Linked DNA regions of Homo sapiens: region 2 is linked to region 1. Evidence: fine-mapped expression QTL. Tissue or cell type: whole blood. Region 1 holds a variant in brackets; the other region holds the start of a gene. All regions are shown on one strand. Distances are from middle to middle.

What was found. PIP is the estimated chance that this variant, and not a neighbour inherited with it, causes the effect.
Region 2: it holds the start of ZNF584, and the variant in region 1 is fine-mapped to the expression of ZNF584 in whole blood (INTERVAL, PIP above 0.99).

Annotation. Positions count from the first base shown.
Region 1 is chr19:58,483,165-58,485,923 of GRCh38, forward strand. It overlaps LOC112268251 (a long non-coding RNA gene), which reads right to left and starts at 1,060. Exons shown (of 3, transcript XR_007067366.1): 1 at 368-1,060. It also overlaps a transcript of ZNF446 not described here and the pseudogene RNU6-1337P. The variant C/CA (reference allele first, on the strand shown) is at 1,301.
Region 2 is chr19:58,407,273-58,409,895 of GRCh38, forward strand. ZNF584 (zinc finger protein 584) reads left to right here and starts at 1,377. Exons shown (of 4, transcript NM_173548.3): 1 at 1,377-1,893. The coding sequence starts at 1,876. It overlaps ZNF584-DT (ZNF584 divergent transcript), which reads right to left and starts at 1,191. Exons shown (of 1, transcript NR_186337.1): 1 at 1-1,191. RefSeq lists enhancers at 536-585, 564-1,209, 1,136-1,185 and a silencer at 1,446-1,505.

The DNA of each region.
Region 1 (2,759 bases):
GTGAGACCTTGTCTCCAAAAAAAAAAAAAAATTAAAAATAATAGTAGGCTGGGTGTGGTGGCTCATGCCTATATTCCCAGCACTTTGGGAGACCAAGGCAGGTGGACCACTTGGAGTTCGACACCAGCCTGGCCAACATGGTGAAACCTCAACTGTACTAAAAAAAATACAAAAATTAGCCAGGTATGGTGACATGCACCTGTAGTCCCAGTTACTTGGGAGGCTGAGGAATAAGAATCACTTGAACCCGGGAGGCAGAGCTGCAGTGGGCCAAGACGGCGCCACTGCACTGCAGCCTGGGTGACAAAGCGAGACCCTGTCTCAAAAATAATACTACTACTAATTAGCCAGGCATAGTGGCGCATACCTGTAGTCCCAGGGAGACTGAGGTGGGAGAATCACTTGAGCCCAGGAGGTTAAGGCTGCAGTGAGCTCTGATAACACCATTGCACTCCAGCCTGGGCAACAGGATGAGACCCTGTCTGGAAAAAAAAAATACGGAAATGGGAGACGGAAGGGTAGGTCAGAGAGAGGGATGATGGATGAAATAACTGCAAATATTCACAATAGGAGAGGGATGACCCCACCATATGGAATGCTTCACAAATTTGTGTTTACCCTTGCACAGGGGCCATTCTAATCATTCCAATTTTAGTGTATGTACTATAGAAGTGAGCGAGCAGTTAACTTTTTTCTTTTCATGCCTGGATGAATCTATTTTCTGGCTGGCACCATCATTTCTACCAAGACCAAAGAATTTCTTGTTCCCTCCTCACCCTGCAGTACCCAGTGCTATGATTAATTCTCTTGAGTAAACACTTGGATACTACTGTGGCTATTTCTGTAGTATAAATTTCTCAAAATGGGATTGGTGAGTTACAGGGAACATGAGATTTATTTTTGCCTTAAAACAGCAAAAACTTATTGTACAATTCTGGAGACCGGAAGTTAGACACCATCTCACCAAGCTAATACTAGAGTGTTGGCAATGGCTGGGCACAGTGGTTCACTCCTGTAATCCCAGCACTTTGAGAGGCTGAGGCAGGAGGATCACTTGAGGCCAAGACTTTGAGACCAGCCTGGGCAACAGAGTGAGACCCCATCTCTAAAAAAAAAAAAAAAAAAAAAAACACACAATTAAAAAAAATTTTTTTAGCTGGGTGTGGTAGTGCACACCTGTAGTCCCAGCTACTTGGAAGGCTGAGGCAGGAGGATCACTTGAGTCCAGGAGGTTGAGGCTACAGTGAGCCAAGATCTCACGACTGCACTCCAGCCTGGGCAACAGGGCGAGACTCCATCT[C/CA]AAAAAAAAAAAAAAAAAGTGTTGGCAGGGCTGCATTCCTTCTGTAAACACTAGGGGGAAAATTGTTCTGTAGCTCATGGCCCCTTCCCCCATGTGGTGGCTCACACCTGTAAGCCCAGCACTTTGGGAGGCAAAGGCGGGCGGACTGCTTGAGCCCAAGAGTTCAAGACCAGCCTGGGCAACATAGCAAGACCATGTCTCTACTTTTTTTCGATAAAATTTTTTTTAAAAAATTTTAAAAACCAATCAGCCAATTTTCCCCAAGTTAATCTATAAAGTAAATGAAATGCAAATAAAATATACCACATTTCAGCCGGGTGCAGTGGTTCACTCCTGTAATTCCAGCACTTTGGGAGGCCAAGGCAGGGAGATTGCTTGAGCCCAGGAATTCAAGACCAGCTTGGGCAACATGGTGAAACTCCATCTCTAGTAAAAATACAAAAATTAGCCAGGTGTGGTGGTGCACGCCTGTTGTCCCAACTACTCGGGAGGCTGAGGCAGGAGGATCACCTGAGCCTTGGGAGGCAGAGGCTGCAGTGAGCCATGATCGTGCCAGCCGGAGCAACAGAGTGAGACCCTGTCTCAGAAAAATAAAAAGAAGCACATTTTATATGATCCAACAAAAAGATTCTAAAATGCATGTGGAAAAGTCCAAGAATTGCTAAGACAATTTGGAAAAAACGACAAGTAGGGAAGAATTGTCATATTGTAAATAAAAACACTGTTAAGTTATATAATATTAAAATAGTGTGGTGGCTGGGCACGGTGGCTCATGTGTATAATCCCAGCACTTTGGGAGGCCGAGGCGGGTGGATCACCTGAGGTTGGAGTTCAAGACTAGCCTGGCCAACATGGTGAAAGCCCGTCTCTACTAAAAATACAAAAAAAAAAAAAAATTAGCCGGGTATAGTGGCACACGCCTGTAATCCCAGCTACTCGGGAGGCTGAGACAAGAGAATCACTTGAACCCAGAAGGCAGAGATTGCAGTGAGCTGAGATCATGCCACTGCACTCCAGCCTGGGTGACAGAGTGAGACTCCATCTCAAAAAAATAAAATATTGTGGTATTGGCACAGGAGTGGACAACTAGGTCAATCTAGGAACAGACCTTTTGGAACTTGATATACATGAAATGACTCAACCAATCAGTGAAGACAGGGTGGATGTTCACTGAATATTGGAGAAAACTGAACTCCCCCATACAAAAGAAAACAGATTTCCACTTTACACACACTCAAAATTAAATTCCAGATTAAATACTAGGATATTTTTAATGATTTATTAAATTTTTTTTTGGTAGAGACAGGGTCTCAATATGTTGCTCAGCCTAGTGTCAAACTCCTAGCCTCAAGCAATCCTCCCTTCTCTACTTCTCAAATTGCTGGGATTACAGGCTGAGCCACCACACCCAGCCTGATATTTATTTTTAAATATCAGGAAAATGTAAAACTTTGTTTTG
Region 2 (2,623 bases), 76 kb before region 1:
ATGACCCCAGCAAGCGAGAATAATCCTTACTCCAAGACAAACACAGACCTGCAAAAAATGAACATTCAGGGAAGGCTCCCAGGCAGGACCCAGTGGGCCCACACGCACCCATGTCAGTGCATGCAGTGCCTGGAATCTTACAGGAAGTGACCGAGCTGAACGTGACCAGCTGTGAAGATTCAGAGACTTCTGAGCCCCGATCTTGGCCACTCACGGCCCTTGGGTAGAATGTGTGGGGTGTCCACTCAGCCACTTGTTAGAGGAGGTGGCATGATCTGGGCCTCAGTGCCACGACCAACAGCGACTTCCAAGGGGAACATGGAAAGAACAGAGGAAAAAAACCAGAGTTGAGGCTGGGGAGAGTTATGGTGCCAGTGGTCTCACCCAGCACTGAGTGCAAAGTTCTCCAGCACCACTTCAGGTAGAAGCTCCTCTGGACCTTGCCTAAGAACTCCGTTCGTCCGGGAGGACGCAGGCCCACCTGCTCTAACATGAACGCGTCTGAATTCAGCGGAGGACACCCAGGAGCCCGGTTATTCTCCTGCCAGCGTCCTCCCCTGATGTGTCCCTGACCCCGTGCTCTGACGTACTCAGCCATGTACTCACTCTCCTCTCCCAGGCCCCCATACCTGAGATCACCATGGCCTGATATGGGGTAGACTACAAGCCTACCGTGCCTCAGCCATGTGCAGGGCGACCTGTCCCTGGCATCCACACCTGTGGCCCATACGTCGCCCGCATTGTGGGGCGCCGAAAACCCAACACAACTGAAACACAACTGCTGACCTTCCCCCTAAGCCGCCTCTAAACGAGGTCCCTCGGCCCCTGGTCCCAGCCGCTCTTTGAAGACTTGCCTGATGACAGGCATGTACCATGTTTTTGGCTGGGACATTTTTCTGAGCCTTGCTCCGGGCTCCGTAAAGCGGACACGGTGCCAGGGAGAGAATTTCGGGGCGGTTGCGGGCACAGGCGGGCTTCTGCGGAGGCCCTGGCGAACGCCCCCGCGCGGCGCGGTCCGATGGCCCCATGGGGCCGCCCCTCCACTGTGAGGTCACCGGGGTTCAGCAACATTCACTGCGGCTAGGACGCGTACAGGTCACTGAGGCAGAACTTCCCGATTCTCGCGCCTTCGTTCGTTTCTGCGGACCAGCGGAGACTCCTCCACACCGCCCACCGCCCAATGATCCCACTGCCGCAAACCGCCCCAAAGCCAGCGCCGAAAGCCGACGCCGGAAGCCCCGCCCCACGCAGGGCCCGCCCGAACGTTCCCGTTCCTGGGCCGCCATTGGCCAAGTCTGAACGGCCCCACGTCGAGGCTCCTTATGGGAAATGTAGTTCACGTCCCGCTTCAGGAGCTAGCGGCGCCCTCCCTTATCGCCTTGGCAACGACCCAGCCGCGCCGCGAGGAGAGCCGGGAATGGAGGTCGTGGCGTGAGGGGCGCCGAGCGAGGGGAGGCGCGGGCCACGGGAGTTCCGGGAGTTCCGGCGTTGCCCGGCAGTCCGCAGTCCTCGGCGGGAAGGCTGTCCCGGCGCCTCAGGCAGCTCTGCGTGGGCCGGGGTGACTTCCTCGCGATCCCCTGCGCGAGGTGAAGGGCAGGGACCTTTGCCGCGCCTTCCACGCGCCGTGCCCCACCGGCGAGTGGCTCCATCTTCCTCAGACTTATCGCTCGCGGACAGGCGCCGTGGGTCTCCCGGGCCTCCGTACCGTCCTCCTTCCCAGCGGCTCCGGGAAGCGGTTCCCTGTCTTCGGACGCATTTCACCCGCGCGGGGAGAGCTTCCCGGGAAGGTTCCACGGCGGCCGAGGGTTTCCGCGCCCGGGACGCGTTTCGGCTGAGGCCGTGGGTCCAGTCCACGGGTTCTGCCCGCACGGTCCAATGGCCGGGGAGGCGGAGGTGAGCAGAGGATGCCTCCGAGGAATGAGGGGGCCCACCAGGTGGGGGGCGGCGTGTGCCAGGGCAGAGTTGGAGGAGGGCAGGAGATCTGCGTATGATTCCAGGGGGAGGTCTTTGATGCACGGCTGGGGCATGCCCTTGGCAGTGGGAGCCATTGGAGATGTGCCGCAGGACTGGGACAGGATGGGGTCGTAGTTGCTGTGCCAGGCCCTCTGGAGACGCATGTGCAGAACGGCGTGTGGAAGGCCAGGCAATTGCCTATAGGGTAAACTGGGGACGTTGTGCTGGGGGTGTACAGTTTTAGGCATTCTGTTGTCCAGTTTTGTGCCTGTTGAGCAGGAGGCAAACTGGACCCTGGGACCAGGTACTTGAGACCTAAGGGAGAAGGATGAGCATAGGTTTGGTTGCGTCTGAGAGGTATGATCTCTGGGACTGGAATTGGCAGGCAGGAGATAGAGTGGAGCCTGTGCCCTTGGCCCTGCACATAGATGGCATCAGTCTGGTCACCAACCTGATGTCGCTTTGGGCTGGACACAGTTTCCAGTAGTAACACCAGAAGCATCAATAACACCAGCAGCTCTGATATTCCTCTGGGATAGGAGAAGGAAGGTATAAGGGTATGTGTAGGGAGTAAGGTGGGGAAGAGTTTAGAGCTCATAGGGAAAGATAATGTCAGGGGGAGATGTGATAGGACCCTGAGATACAGGTCAAGGGCCTGAATGTGTCCATC